2 separate regions of the Homo sapiens genome follow, and region 2 is linked to region 1. The links come from fine-mapping of genetic effects on gene expression. Tissue or cell type: CD8 T cells. Region 1 holds a variant in brackets; the other region holds the start of a gene. All regions are shown on one strand. Distances are from middle to middle.

Region 1 (8,105 bases):
GAGATTAGCTGTAACACCCACTGTTTGTAAGGTTGAGGGGAACGAACTCTCCCATATACTGGTGTAGACACATGAATTACATTTGATGTTTGAAAAAGAAAATCCCTGAACCCAGAATAGAATTGATATTGTGGTTACAAGACAGATAAAAGATTTATGTGTATGGACTAAGACTAGAAGAGAACAAAGACAAGCAATCCCTTTAATAAAGGTGGTGGCCTTGTGGGTGATCATTTTCCCAATTTTTGTTACGAAAGCATGCAATAAAAATAACTTGCAAGATTTCCATCTTTGTATAGTAAGTACATTTGCCCTTTAAAAATTAATTTTCTGAAGAACCACCAAAGCATACTGCCTTGAGAGAGAAAGGAACTTTAGAAAGTCTGCCACAACCACCACTTCAAGGGGGAACAGTAAAAATCAATAAAAGTGGACACAAACATGCAAGGCTAATGGCGAAACCTCACATGTTGCTAGTGTGCTAATGTCAGAGGGCAATCCAGAATTGGACTAACCTTTATTAGGATGATGTAAGGGAACTCTCCCCCTTTTCCTGTGTTCTAGCCTGGGAGGGCTGGAGTAGATGCTCCCTTTCTCTGATGACAGAACTAGTCTCCTGATAGCTCACAAAGGAGTGGAAGGTAGGCCCCATGCCTTCAAATGACTGGCTGCATCAGTCAAGGCCTACATTGGAGGGAAAGAGATTGGAAACAGACTCATCTCAGCCTCTGGGTCTCCCAATCCAGCCTTACTAGAATAAATCGCACACTTAATTGGTGGTTTCTTGTCTATCTTCAATGTGGTTAGAACTCAAGAGGGGAGGACAGGTGACTAGAACCTTCAAAACCCCAACAGATGGCTTTGCAATACCCCTCCTATTTCAAAGAATCTCAGACAAAAGGAAATGGGTTCTGCATTTAAAAGCAGAAACTGGCCTCTTAGAAAGCAAAATAATATAGGTCTAGTTAACTATTCTATACTTTTAGTCAATGTGTTTAGATACTTCTGTGGTAGTTCAGAGCCAAACAACATCTAGAAGTCCTGAGCAGGTTTTTAGTAGCCAAGTCTCCTAGTGGCTTTACAGTCTCGACAGGTCACTGTAATGCCAGATCCTTTGTGTCCACCAATACCAGCAATACAAGTAACATGAGAGACCAATTGAATAGGAAAAACCAAGTAAAGGAAAGTAATTCTTGATTTTGACCTCAAACTTCATGGAGTGAGTACTTCCATCACAGAGGTCAAAACATGATTTTGAAATCCAAGTCGGTACAGATGCTATGCCTATATGCACCAGTGACATGTTCCTTGGTGCTATTATTAGTGTTGAACCACTGAAGGGAGTCGAATCACCTCCAGCTTCAAACAAGTTGGGAATTCATTAACTGTGTGATTTAAGTCTCCTCGTTTCGAGTATATACCTTGTCTATAGCCAACACTCCACTAGGGTAACTTAAAACAAAATAGTAATTTATTTACAATAGCAAAGATGTCAAAAATAACAGGAACAATATATAACAAATCCAAGATTTTTATGAAAAAGGCAAACAGTATATACACGAAACAAAAGATGAAACAAAATCCATAGGGTAAACTTAATTTGACCTTAGCTAAACAGTTACAGAATGTGGCAAAATGGTTATGATTTATTTAAGTAACCCTGGGCCAATTAAACACACACACACACACACACAATCTTTTTCAACCCTTCTCTTTTAAATGCTGAATCTTCCTCTCAACTCAGTTTACCTTTGAAGAATGTAACCATGGGAGGCCACACGAGATTTAGGAAGTGCAGGCTATTTACATGTGCGCTAAAGGCATACTTGTTGACTTGGCAGGCTCACACTTTTAAAACAGCAAATGGAAGGTATAAACTGTCTGGGGTCCTATTTTTCTCTCACTGTTCATTTCTGATTTTTTGTGATAATTTCTTTCTTATCTACCACACAAAATGCTGAACCAGTCATCTTTTAGGTTCCTCAAGTGCTCTAAAAGTGTTTCCCAAGTTTGAACAGGCATCAGAATCACTTGGAGAACATGTTAAAACAAAGACTGCTGGGTCCCACGCCAGTTTCCCAATTCAGTAGGACTAGGGTGGGGCTGAGAATTTGCATTTTTAACAAAGTCCCAGGAGATTAAGATGCTGCCAATGCTGTCCGGCCATACTTTGAAAACCACTGCTCTGAAAGATTGCCCCTTTAAGATATTGATTAGCCATGTTTTTCCTTACATGAATGCTAGAATTTGTGGGAAATGAAATTATTAATACTGAGATTCCCAGAGAATACAAATACAGCAGCATGTTATCGGACTTGTTGGATCACAGACAGGTTAGGTGTCATTTGTTGGGTGTTCCATTACAAAAGTTTTTCAGCATGCTATGTATGGTTTTGTCTGATTTATGGCTCTGGACAGTGACATTCACCACATTCCCTTCGTCATTTACCTAAAATTTTAATTTATTGTTTCAACTATTAGGCAAACGTTTGTTCATACAGTTGGAAGAACTGCAGAATCTTGTCTATAAAATCAAAGATGGCACAACTCTATCTCTTTTGACTCCTGACATTTACTTAACTGCCGATTTTTAACTGTGGCAATGACCATTCCCTAGTATGTTAGCATCTACTAGTCCTCTAAACTGGGCGCAGTGGGGTAACTCGAGGGCATGATTTCTGTTGTGGAGGTGGTAACAGTCCCCACTGATTAAATATGCTGTAAATTAATACTGAAATGAACTTTAAGTGCTCTCAAAAACCACTTTATGCATGAGTAATTTATCTCAGGGGAATTGGAGATGCTAATAAAACAAATCCTTTATGAAGATAAAAGAAAAAATGAATTCCAAGGACATGCTCATCAAAGGACTCACCAATCACCTCTTAACTTCTCTGAAATATTACTTGCAAATTCACAGAACTGAAATATTACCAGTATTTGCATCCGAGTCACAAAATTCAAAGCAATCAAGCACTTTGCATTCCACTGCTGTGAAAAAGAAATTAAGAAATGGGGGGATGAAAATAATCCACTGCTTTTGATGTTTATTAGGTTTACAAAAACTGTACATTTTTTTTCCTTGAGAAAAAGCATTAACTTAGTACTGGTATCAAATAGACTAAACATTCAATAACAGGAAAATATTCTGATTTTTATTTTTGCACGTTATTCTCAAGTACACAATTACAATAATGTCACACATCCCTATATGATTTTCTTTTTATGTATTTTACTTTCTTTACAAAGTGTACAGAGGGAGGGACATACAATATTTAATAGGATATTTCTACAGAACAATAACTTATATTATGTCCTTGTAAAAATCTGTACCTCTTTAAAACATTTAACTGAAACATCCATTTTTTTTTAGCTTTGCTAATCAAAATTGTTTTAAGAATTAAAACTAGGTTGTAACTAATGTCAGTACATAACAGTGACTACAATTTCATTTTCTCTTTATACAGACAAGTATGTTTTATCATATTCACTTGACCAAACCCTTAAATACCTTTTAAAGGTTTTAATGTTGTGCTTTAAAAAGAACTGTGTATGATTCCGGAGTATGTAAGAGAAATATAAAATGTGTGAAGTGTTGTGTTCTTTATCTTTCAGTTTATTTAAAAAAATATAGTTAAATGACCCAATCATTTATATTTTCTGTATTAATTTTATAGGATTTAAAATTAATACATTTCCACTTTCATTTAAGTGTTTTTACATTATTTCTGGGAAAATAAAAATTAAGGGAGATTTTAAAGGTTCTCACAAAAAAACAGACAGAGCTTTCAAGAATCGCAGGGCAATGAATCACGGATCACAAAATTGTAAGTTAGTTTAAAAAAAAAAAAAAAAAAA[AAAC/C]ACATTATGGGGGCCAAGAAGGTACAGGAATTTCCTATAAGATAGGCTAGGAAAACCCATGCCTTGACTTTGACTGGCATTTGGGCTGGAGTTCACACCTGCCTAAAGCACTTGGTTTAAAACTAGACTAAATCAGTCTAGCACTTCAGAGGTTTGCCAAACACCAAATATTTTGATTTCTAACCCTAAAAATATAACTCTTGAATACAAACATCAATGGCAAAGAGAAAGATGAAAGGTAAAAACCTAAGCACACAGGGGATGGAGCACCATAATGAGGTGACAAGGCAGCTATCGGGTGGGAAGACAATTTCTAAATCTCCTACAATGTGCTAGATGCATACGGACCAATAGCCAACTGAAGGGACCCCAAAAACTGTTTTCTGTTCTCCCAGATTCGTCTTAACATAACCAAGTTCTAATTAACCGAGTTTGTTTTATGAATGTATGACACTGATTCAGACCTATGTGGTGTCTGGGCACGGTGGCTCACGCCTGTAAACCCAGCACTATGGAAGGCCGAGGCAGGTGGATCACGAGGTCAGGGTTCAAGACCAGCCTGGCCAAGATGGTGAAACCCCATCTCTATTAAAAATACAAAAAATTAGCCGGGCGTGGTGGTGGGCGCCTGTAATCCCAGCTACTCGAGAGGCTGAGGCAGATAATTGCTTGAACCCAGGAAGCAGAGGTTGCAGTGAGCTGCAGAGGTTGCAGTGATCACACCACTGCAGTCCAGCCTGGGCAACAGAGCAAGACTCCGTCTTAAGAAAAAAAAACAACAAAAAAAAACAAACAAACAAAAAACCTGTGGAAGACTTAGTGATGTTCCAAATAAGGCCTCAGACTTTCCTTATCCACTTAAAACACATCTTTACCTTTTAATCAAAGCCAACTTGAGTGTTAAGTTTTTAAAGTTTGCTAACTGTAACTGAGAAATAACAGATCAGCCTGAACTTGCCGAGTGTGAAGTCATAATTAGCACCCGTTCTCTGGTCCACAGAGCCATCACTTCTTTTCCATCCCCCTCACTAGGTAAGACAGAGTTCCCTCTCAGGCTTCTCAAAGAGAACTGTGGGAGTCATGTCTGGATACTCATTTGCTTTTCAGAAAAACATAAAGACATGGAGGTGAAATTGTATGAAAACATTCTACCTAGAAACATCTTAACCTCTATGTTTCAATTACCAAAGATATTTAAAAGAAAATATCTTTACTCTTTAAAAATACTAGTGTCCTTATTTTCCTTCTAATTCTTCACCTGAGTAGTCTCTCTGAAGAGCATGACTTACAAAATGCTCTCTCATGCATCCCTGGATCTTTCATGTTATTGTAAATTTAATACTTTTCATTATAGATTTTAAACAACTACTACTTGGGGTTGTGTGTATAAATATGTAAAATAAGCAATACACACAGGTACATGATATATATGTGTATATATATAATTCAGGGTACATTTACATACATAAAGTTGCAAAAGATCCTATAAGCCATGAGTTACCTCTAGGAGATTCCAAAATGCAGTCCTCAGTAAGTGTCATTTGTAGCACACAACCATTCCAAGATGAAGCCGCACAGACAGAATAATCAAAATACAACATGAGCAAGCACAGTTTTTCAATAAGGTTTTCTAAAAGTTTGCTACGCTGACAAAAGATGTAAATAATCCAAAGAAAGCCAAAAGAAGTATATTTGAAAAGTAAACACGAACCCAGCCACTGCTCTTTACTCAGCAAAGCCAGGGACGCAACAGCTCAAATGGAAACTTTCACTGTCAAGTGGTCTGAAAATATTAAGCAAGACAAGTAAATGACTTCCATGTTATGATAATTAGACCTGACTGTAAAATCTCCCATTTATATTAGTAGATGTCTCTGACAATTTTATTGTGAGAAATGTATGGGGAAAAAAATGAGTCAACATGAATACTTTCAGAGTTACCAATATAAAGTTACCTTAAGTTAATGGTCTTAGAAGAGTACCATCAAGGTAAGCAAGGTAAATATTTAAATAAATATAAAATTCTAAGATATAAAACTTCGGTATAGAATCAGGGATTACTTTATTAAAAGTAACTAGCATGTTGCCAGTTTTCCCTATTTATTAAACAAACTGAATAGAATTCAGAACACACTACTGAGCAAAATGTATATTTAAAAAAAAGTCAACTAGAAGTAATAATTCTATTTGTACACAGCATAAATCAATATACAGTATTGTATGTGAATGAGACTGATTGGCTTTAAAATGAATTTTCTGCTTCAAGGCCAATATCTCTACAAACGTTCTGTAGAAGTATTGTTAGGGCAGGCCAACTTCTTTATGATGTCGCATTATGTGCTGGTTCTTTTCTGAAGGTCTTCGGAAGCCTTTCTTGCAGTACTCACACCGGTGAGGATAGTCTTTCGTGTGAATGGAAATAACGTGCCGTTTAAAGCCTGAGGCATCTGTAGTGCTATACTCACAGTACTCACACTGATACACTTTCCTGCCACTGTGTGTCTTCATATGCTTTTTAAGCTCACTCTGTTGCCTAAATCCCTTTCTACATCTCTTGCACCTAAATGGAAGATCCTTTGTGTGAACTGAGAGAATATGGCGACTTAGAACAAATGGATCTGCAATCTTAAAGTCACAATGTCTACACTGGTGCATTTTTTTGCCCTTGTGGGCAGCCACGTGTTTCTTGAGTTCTGAAGGCCTGTGAAAGCCTTTATCACACATGTCACACTTATGGGGGTAGTCTTTCGTGTGAACTGAAATTATGTGTCGTTTCAAATCACTTGAGTTCGAACTCTTGTGGTCGCAATGCAAACACTGGTGTGTTTTGCTTTCTTGGTGGATAAGAGCATGTTGCTGCACCTCTTTGGTATCCGAGAAAGTCAGAAGACAAATGTCACACTTGAATGGCATCTCTTTACTATGCTTAGTTTTGACATGCGTTTTCAAGTTAGAAGAGTCTGCAGACCTATATTCGCAGTACTGGCATTGGTACGGCTTCTCCCCAGTATGGATTCTCATGTGCTTTTTGAGCTCTGACGGGTGACGAAAACCCTTACCACACTCCACACAAATATGAGGAAAGTTCTTGCTGTGGACTGCCAAGAGGTGGCGATTCAATAACCCTTGTTCAGCTGTCTCGTATTCACAGAATTTACACTTGTGCATTTTGTTGGCTCCTTTTTCCTTATGCACCATTTTGTGAGTAAACAAAGCCCCTGCATGAGAGAAATGCTTCCCACACTCATCGCATTCAATGGCCTTCTCTGCCTTGCTGGTCAGCTTGTGGCTCTCCAGGTGGTTGTGTAAACTTATCTTCTTGTTGGTAGTGTAATCACAGTCAGTACAGCGGTATTTCTTCTTGGCAAGGTGTTCGGGATGGTTTTTCATGTGCCTTTTCAAAAAACCTCTCGACTTAAACTTCTTCCCACAAATCATGCAAGGATAGACAGTCAAAGGATGTCCATCAGGGCCAATAATTATTGCTAAAAAAGGAAAAGAAAGGAGTATGAGTGCTCAAACCAAGTTCTGTTCCAGTTTCTTTGCGAATATAAAGTGTGGGTTCTGACCACTGTTGGCCAAGGACTCCTAAATTGGACTATTTGCTGCTTAACATTCCTTTTACTGTTTTTCAACACAAGAGATATAGCAACCTAGTCATAGAGAAAATGGTCTGGAAACTTCCTTCATGAAGACTGTACCGCCTTCACTCCCTCTAGTTTAATAAAATTAATGAATATGTAACTTTTATCAATTAGTGATTAAACCTACAGCAATTTAGAAATTGGTGGAAAATTGGCTGGGCACGGTGGCTCACGCCTGTAATCCCAGCACTTTCGGAAGCCGAGGCAGGCAGATCACCTGAACTCAGGAATTCGAGACCACCCTGACCAACATAACATGCTGAAAACCCGCCTCTACTAAAAATATGAAAATTAGTGGGGCACAGTGGCACACATCTGTAATCCTAGCCGCTTGGAAGGTTGAGGCAGGAGAACCACCTGTACCCAGGGGGCAGAGGTTGCAGTGTGAGTTGAGATCACGCCACTGCACTCCAGCCTGGGCAAGAGAGCAAGATTCTGCCTCAAAAAAAAATAAGTAAATAAACTGGTGGAAAATTATTCATAAAAATAAACTTTGGTGACAAAAATTTCCACTGTTTATTCCAAAAAACATAACTTACGTTAACTTACAGCAAAGTTTAAATATACCCATAAAATTTTTAATACGCAAATCATCATACA
Region 2 (8,105 bases), 63 kb after region 1:
CAAAAAAAAATAGTAAAACAAGTGGCACTGTTTTACATTTTTGCAAATCTCTTTCATGTCTGGCTTAATAGAAACCGGCTGGATTCCCGTAAGTGTTTCTGCATTCTATCTATTATGACATCATATGTCATGCAGCCTCTGTACAGTATTCCTATAGTGTACAGGAAAATGTGGGTGAAAAGAGCAAATAAAAAGTATTATGAAAATAGTTTTGACCTCATGGACCCCCTGAAAGAATCTTAGGGATCCCCAGGAATCCCTGCAGCACACTTTGAAAACTGCTGGACTAAACACATTACATGGATAAATCTCAAAAACACACTGTTAAGTAAAAATAATATATAAGGTATGGTTATGATACTGTTTATGTAAAGTTAAACACACAAGCAATACCTGATATTGTTTTGGTACATACATATTGGGACAGGTGGTTACTTCTGGAGAAAAGAAGACAGGAAGGGGATGGGGAGGGACCCTTTGAATCTGTGAGATTTTATTTCTTTAAACAACAAAAAGATATGAATCAAATATGTAGCAAAATATTAAGATCTCTTAAATCTGGGTGATTCTGATTTTCAGTAATTTAAAAATATTCCATAAAACTTTTTAAATATATTTTTTAAATGCCTAATGGCTGTGTACCTCAAGGCCACACAATTTCCTTAGAGTATACTTCCTTTGAGTAAAATACAATTACAAGATACCTGGGTTTTATAAAATGTTGTCTGGAAAAATAACTTGGCAGGAATAAGAATAGGCTGGCCATATTCCAATCAGATAAGGGGTGGTGGGAGGGGTTACTCCTTGACCTGGTGCCCTAATAAGTGTGCCTTAATATGTATGTCCCTGAGTCAAAAAACACACTGACTGGATACCTGATTTTTGAACAGCTGAAAACTATTAACTACGTAGAATTCTCTGTACCCAGTAACCGAAATTATTGCTTTGAGAGATAATGGTCCATATGCCAGGTACTGCTTGGAGACAAAGATAAATCAGAACTTGTCTCTATATTCACAGTGTAGAAGGAAAAAATATAAACACACAGTTCAAATATAATACATTAAATGATAAATTAAGGGGAATCCCACCATAGAAGACAGAGAAGGCACAGAGAGTTTCTGAAACACAGAGCACTTTTATATAACACACCTGTTAACATGCTGTGCAAGTTTCCCAATTTGGGTAATACTGGATTTAAGAATAAGTGGGGTGCAAAGAAAGTGAAGACAGGTGAGGCTTTTGTAAGATGAGCAAACCTAGGAATATTTGTAAAGAGAGGTTAATGATGCAAGAGACGGCATCACGCACAGAGCTTGGTCCCTAAGGAGGCAGCCAGGGTGAAGAGCAGGCTCAGAGCAGCAGTGGGGCTTGTGAGACAGCAATCCCTCCTGCAACCTCCCCTGCGGCAAAAGGAGGAAGGCCTAGGTGAAGACAGGAAAGGCATGAAGGGGAAGGGAGGGGAGACTTGGCTCTTTATCAGATGGCCATCTACCCTTCTCAGTGAAGTGAAAGACTGGGTAATCTTTGCTGAAGATGAGAGATTTCAAGGACCCGTTGAGTAGTTTTAAGAGTGAAAAAAAGTTTGGAATTGCCAGTGTACACAAGAACAAATAATACAAAGAAGATTATCAGTGACAGAATCAGTCTAAATGGGTTAAGTGAGAGTAAGCATTTGCAATGAGAGTAAGCATTTACAAAAAGCAATGTGGAAAAAAAAATTTGTAACACATTCGTGAGCATGTTTTTTTAAAAAAAGAAATCTGCATCTATCTGAAAAATACACAGAAATTAAAAACTAACACCTTATTCATCCAGGGTGGTTGGGTTCGAAGGTGTTCCACCAGTCAGTTTTCCAAAGTTTCAAGGTCTACCCTTTCAGGCAAAAATAATTTTATATTTAACCATTTCTAATTGAAACTAAACTACACACTTACCTGTCTTAATCACACAACTTGACTCTAATCTTAATCTTGAACATCCACTGTTGCTGTACTGCGCAGCAAAACAATTCTATCTTCTTAATAGTTCTTCTATGTCTTTCCCAGCTGTCAAAATATAAAAGCACCTGGTTCTTCTAAGTTTATGTTTACCCTTAACACCTCAACAACCACAGCCCGCCTTCTCAACTTGCTTCTAGTCAGCCTCATGCAATGCACTGTTTCTCGAACTTTTCTAAACCATAGCCCTTTATAATAAACATGAGACTCTCATTCCCTCCAGCCCTTTCATGGAGCACCGCTGCTCACGACCTGTTACAGTCTAGAAAAATGGAAAAACTGAAAATGGGTATCTATGCCACCTAAAGGTTTCCATCATAAAATTCTAGGAAACAGGCAGGGCACGGTGGTTCATGCCTGTAATCCCAGCACTTTGGGAGGTCAAGGCAGGCAGATCACTTGAGGTCAGGAGTTCGAGACCAGCCTGGCCAACATGAAACCCTGTCTCTACTAAAAATACAAAAATTAACCAGGCATGGTGGCAGGGTCCTGTAGTCCCAGCTACTCGGGAGGCTGAGGCAGGAGAATTACTTGAACCCGGGAGGCAGAGGTTGCAATGAGCCAAGATCACACCACTGCACTCCAGCCTGGGCGACAGAGTGAGATTCAGTCTCAAAAAAAAAAAAAAATTACCACGGGAATACTCATTTCTCATTTTCGTCAAATAACCCACAGCACTAGTCCTGTACTTTTCAACCATGGTAAATGAAATGTTAGAAACCCCTCCCTATTTGTGTACCATAGAAATTCTGACAACTCTGAGCAAAAGATTATTTCGGATGAGAAATCAGGATAGAAAAAAGGAGCAGCTGTCTTAATAGAGACGCATCGTTCCAAAAGTAGCAAAATTTGCTTAACTTCTGAACATTCTTGTAATCGTTCTGATAATGAAAACACTGATCAACTTACTACTCTCATTATTTTTCAACTTTGAAACTTTTCCTAGTCCAATGGAACTACTAAGTACCGTAAAGCACAGCTCAGGGAACAGACGGCAGTGACAGGCGGGCAGTGGGAGGCGGGAGAACGGCTTGAGCCCAGGAGTTCGAGACCAGCCTGGGGCAATATAGCAAGAACCTGTCTCAAAATAAAAAATAAGTAAATAACAAGGTGCAGCTCAGGTGTGCCATCACTCTTCTAGTTGAGGGCACCCCCGCTGCCTACCCCATTGAGTATAAGCCCCTCCACCTGGCAAGCAAGCCCTTCTGCAATCTAACTTTTCTAGCCTGAATTCCCACCACTCCCCTACCTATACCATCCACTTTTGCCAAACTGTAAATACTTACTGTTTACTGAAGAAGCTTCACCCTTGAAACGTCCTTTCTCCACCTCCACCTCTACCTAACAAAGTCCTACCCATCCCTCGGTAACCTTCTCAAAATGCCACCTATTAATACTTCAGGAACCCGTCCCTCCCTGATCCTCCAATGGCAACCTTGCTTCCCTCGGAAATCCCAGTAATTAGTTGTACCTCTCACTTTACTGCATTTCACCTTGCCCCACCTACCTCTAAACATGAGACTTCTTGCAGCCACCGTCTGCATTACAAGAACCTTTTTAATGTTTCTTAGCATCTAGCACGGTGCATCGCTAACAGTAGGCTCCGAGTTTATCAAGAAAGTTGCACAGTGTGCAATCAAAAAAGTACGTTAGGGGATGAAACTCCGCCTTAAAACTTCACAAATGAAAAATCGAAATACCATGACAGGCAAATGCACAATAAATATGCACCACACTAAGTTGTCCTCCAATAAGAAAATAAAAAAGTCTGCCCTTATTCCTCGATTTAAAAAAATACCACCAACAGATCACTACTTAAATCGTTTTTCAAGAAAGTTGTTTCCACATAAATGAGTACGAATGATTCAAAATTTTATTCCTCCGCTCTCGTGTTGTGCAATTTTTTTCCCTATAGGACAAAAGAATGGCAAAAACTTTCCCATCAATCTTTATTTTTCTTCCTTTATTCAGATACTCGGGGCGGCAAAGATTGTTGGAAAAACAACTGCATCGAAAGCACCTTAGCAGCCACATATGATTTGACTTAAGCAAAAATAACATTTCCTGGGGTCCCGTATGCCCTGGTAAGCCCAGGTGTCCGGAATGCCACCTGCCCCGACTGCCCTCGGGTGGCTACAGGCGCGGGGGAAGGCGCAGGGCCAGGGGCGCTGAGGGTGAAACGGTCCCGGCGTCCGGGCGGCGGCGGTGGCCGCCTGCGGCAGCTCAGCTGAAACGCAGCGGAAACTGCAGCCAGTCACGGGGCTGCGGGAGGCAAGGCAGGAAGGTGGCGCTGCCGCCGAGCGCCTGGAGCCCGAGCGCTCATCATGGCGGCAAGGGCAATGGCCGCCACGGGGAGCGAGCACGCCCCTCCGCGCGCACACGCCGCCGCGCCGGGCCTCCGGGGCCCGTCACCGGCGCCGCTGCCGCCGCCGCCCGCTCTCCCACCCCCCCTCACGGGCTGTAGCGGAATTTTCTCTCCAGACACCGCCTCCAAGATGGCGGCTCCCCCTCCCGGCAACCCCCTCTATCGTCCCCTGCAGCAGGCGCCGAGCCGCCGCCATCTTGTCCCCCGTCCCTCCCCCCCCCTCACCGATATTTACATAGCGAAAATCGGCCCGGCCGGCCTGCGGCCTTCACCTCACGCCTGCAGCCTTCGCCTCCTCGCCAGGCCTCACCCCGGCGCGGTGCCCCAGGTCGGCCGCGGAGCCGACCCGGGGCCCCTCGACCGCCTCCGGCACAACCGGGCGACCCTCCCCCAACCCCCGCCCGCTTACGGAGCGCGCCTCCGCCGCCGCTCGGGGCAGCCGGGCTCCTCCCCGGGCCTAACTGCGGCCTCCTCGGGGCCTGCTCGGCGCCGCGCGCCACGCCGCCCGGCCTAGCGCGGGAGGGCGCCTTGCGGGCCGCCGACCAGGCCGAGACCAGGCCGCTGTGCGCGCACTAGGCCCCGCGGCCGCGGCGGCACCCGGGACTCACCGGACGGACGTGCGGGCGGCCGGCGACGGTGGCGGGTGCTGCAGGCCGGCCTTTCTCTGGAGCACTGGGCCGGGCTCCGGCTGGTGGGGCGGGCGGAGGGAGGGAGGAGGGGCCGAGCTCGGAGCTGACAAAAAGCGGCCCAGCTCCCCGGCACGGGCCCGCCGTCAGCACGTCACGTCACCGCCCGGGAGAGAGACCCAGGAAAATGCGGAAGGGTAGACAGGCCCCCTCCTCCGCCCGGTGGGTCCTCCTGGCACCCCGTGTCGGCGCCGCTCCCGCCCCGCGACCGGGGAGCCCAGTGGCCTCGCTGCGGCGGGGTCTCCGGCGGCCGGAGTCTCCGTGACAGCGCCCCCCTTCTTTCCACCTCCTCCGCGCTCCCGCCCGCCGCCGCCACACACGCGCCGCTGCCGCCGCCGCCTCGGCCGTAAAGCCCGCGCGGGGCCGCGGTCGGCCGACCCCGCGGAGAGGCAGGCGGCCCGGCCGCCCCCCACCATGTCCCGTGGGCCGCGGCCGCCCCCCGGGGGCCTCCCTGGAGACCTACCGCCTCTCGCGCCGGTCCTGGCCGAGGCTCCAGCTCGAGTTGTTTGCAGGCCCTCAGACCCCCGCCCGCAGTAAATGTGTTTTCTTCATCCCCGTGGCTGGGGAGGAAGATAAATTTAGCAACCCCCGCCGTCCCCTGCCTTCGCTTAAAAAAAAAAAATCTTTGAAATAAAATGAAAACGGGCTTGCCAGTCTAAATGGGTGTGCGGGAAGGGGGGTGGAGTGGGGGGAGAAGGGTTATCCCTAGAGCACCTACCAGGCCGTCTACTTTTTAAAAATAAGCAGTCAGAGCCAAACTGATTTTATTAGTTTGTACGGGGGAGGGAGATGAGCAAAGTTGCATTTTGAAACGTTTCGCACGTTGCAAAGAACAGGAATTTTCTGTGTATTTTCCTATGTACCCGTGTTTCAGAGCTTGGGAGCCTGTGAAATGTAAGACTGGTGTCATCGTTTCATAAATCATGAATTTTCCACATTCCTTAATAGAGAGGAGCCCAATTGGGTATGGATTTTTTTTTTTTTAAACACACTGCTTAAACAAGCCTTTTGAAGTTTCAAAAGACTTGGGAGAGAAGGGGAAAATGATTAAACAGCACTTACCAACTTCAAAAATGTGTATTTCGCACTTTACTTAGTTTAAATGTTTATGCTATCTTTCCATGCTGAACTTGGAACCCAAACTCTGTTTTAAAGTTACTAGGGAAAAGTTAAATAGTGGAGTCTTTACATTAATCTGGAATCTGGCATGCTATCCTTTAACACAGCACTAAATGTTAAAGGCATTTTTAAACAATAAGAAACACAAAAATTATAAAGCAAATAGTATACTGGTGTGAAATCTCTTTAAATACAGAGGCCACGTATTTTAGTTGCCTGACATAACTCTTTAAAACTCCCAGAATGCAATTTGTCCCTTCCCTCAGACATCTCTCAATCACAAATGCTTTCAAAAAGGAAAAACAAAAGTAGAGTAAGAAGAAATCTCTGAGCATGCACTGGATGATAATTTTCCTCTCGGGGCTTTAGTCTGAATTTTTCCAAGCGATTAAATTTCCTTTCAAAAATAGTAACAGCATGTATTCATTGTTTATAAAAATTACATCAGGCTGTGATAGACTTTCACAGAAAGACATTTCACAGAAAGGTAAATGAAACTAAGCAATGTTGTTTCAATAAAAAAAAATGAGAAATAGCTTGTGTGCCCACATTAATATTTCTTGCACTCCCAGACTGGAGTGCAATGGCGTGATCTTGGCTCACTGAACCTCTGCCTTCGGGGTTCAAGCGATTCTCCTGCCTCAGCCTCCCGAGTAGCTGGGATTACAGGCACTTGCCACCACGCCTGGCTAATTTTTCTATTTTTTTAGTAGAGATGGGGTTTCACCATGTTGGCCAGGCTGGTCTCCAACTCCTGACCTCAGGTAATCCACCCGCCTCGGCCTCCCAAAGTGCTGGGATTACAGGCGTGAGCCACCGTGCCCGGCCGCCCACATTAATATTTCAAAACATTGATAATCAGCGTTTAAGTACTTTCCAAGGGCCTCAGTGTGATGCTACGGTATGGCAAGAATGGAGGCCAGGTTCCCTGGTTCAGTCCTGTAATCACAGCACTTTGGGAGGCCGAGGCGAGAGGATCACTTGAGCCCAGGAGTTCAAGACTAGCCTGGGTAACATGGTGAGACCTCGTCTCTATTAAAAAAAAAAAAAAAGAAGAAGAATAGAGCCTCACTTCATCCATGCAACTGTAAGCAGCATGTTCAAGACAGAAAAACCTAATGTCACCATTCTTGTTAGTTTTTCCATAATTACCATCAAAAATACTTATACATCCACCAGTGTAAAGCACTTAAGAAAACAGTGTCCAAGGAGCATGAAAGAAAAAGAAGTTTTCTCAGTTTAAAAGATCACAAGTAGTTTAGGGATTGATACTTTCAAAGAGCCCTTTGTCATTACTTTTCATACAGGAAGAGACTGTTAACTTTGGTGGGAAACAAAGAAAGGATGGCCTAGTTCTATTAGATTAGATAAACCTTTATTAAAGTCCAGCAAACTTTATAAAGTCCAGTTATTTTATAGATGACTATACAGATAAGGTCAACTATATTTTTTTTAGTTAAAAAAAGGTAAAGTTGTACTTTAAGCCCATTTATGGAAGTCTGTAAAGAACATTGTTTAACTGGTAAAAGAACAATGGTAAAAATCATTTCACTAGAAGTACACTTAGTATTATACTCATGATAAAGTGAAGATGAAAAGGAAGTGTAAACAGCAGAGATCAGAAATTGTTTGATGTGACAAAATACAAAATGCATTTTATGAAAGTACTCACAATAGGACCTTGAGGACACCTAAGATCCTTGAAAGCATTTGGTAATTAAGCACCAGACATCTTGCACTTAAAGGACCTACTGCAGCCTATCTTGCCTTGATAATTGTTTTCGTATTAGGGACCTTTAGAATTCTGGGCACAGGAAGTAACAAAGATGTGCTTGCCCTTGGGGAACTCGAATAAGGAGGCTGTGTAAGGCAAAATAAAAACATTCCTAAGTACTTTCATTTTCTCACTTAAGTAAACATAATAAAAGGAAATTT

Alleles and levels. Alleles are on the strand shown, and positions count from the first base shown. SD is a standard deviation of normalised expression in the study named.
For the expression in CD8 T cells of the gene that starts at base 5,039 in region 2, allele AAAC in region 1 goes with a lower level than allele C (small effect, 0.40 SD a copy in CEDAR).

The links. PIP is the estimated chance that this variant, and not a neighbour inherited with it, causes the effect.
Region 2: it holds the start of ZFX, and the variant in region 1 is fine-mapped to the expression of ZFX in CD8 T cells (CEDAR, PIP 0.95).

What each region holds. Positions count from the first base shown.
Region 1 is chrX:24,209,434-24,217,538 of GRCh38, reverse strand. It overlaps ZFX (zinc finger protein X-linked), which reads right to left. Exons shown (of 10, transcript NM_003410.4): 10 at 1,284-7,346. The coding sequence ends at 6,163. Among named protein-coding and RNA genes, the nearest start is that of ZFX, 64 kb to the right of the region's middle. The variant AAAC/C (reference allele first, on the strand shown) is at 3,859.
Region 2 is chrX:24,146,663-24,154,767 of GRCh38, reverse strand. It overlaps ZFX (zinc finger protein X-linked), which reads right to left and starts at 5,039. Exons shown (of 10, transcript NM_003410.4): 1 at 4,974-5,039; 2 at 2,968-3,077; 3 at 1,938-2,048. ZFX-AS1 (ZFX antisense RNA 1) reads left to right here and starts at 5,114. Exons shown (of 3, transcript NR_046657.1): 1 at 5,114-5,213; 2 at 5,926-6,015. RefSeq lists enhancers at 1,108-1,197, 4,583-5,396, 5,603-5,702 and silencers at 4,033-4,542, 4,593-4,642, 4,663-5,072, 5,133-5,492.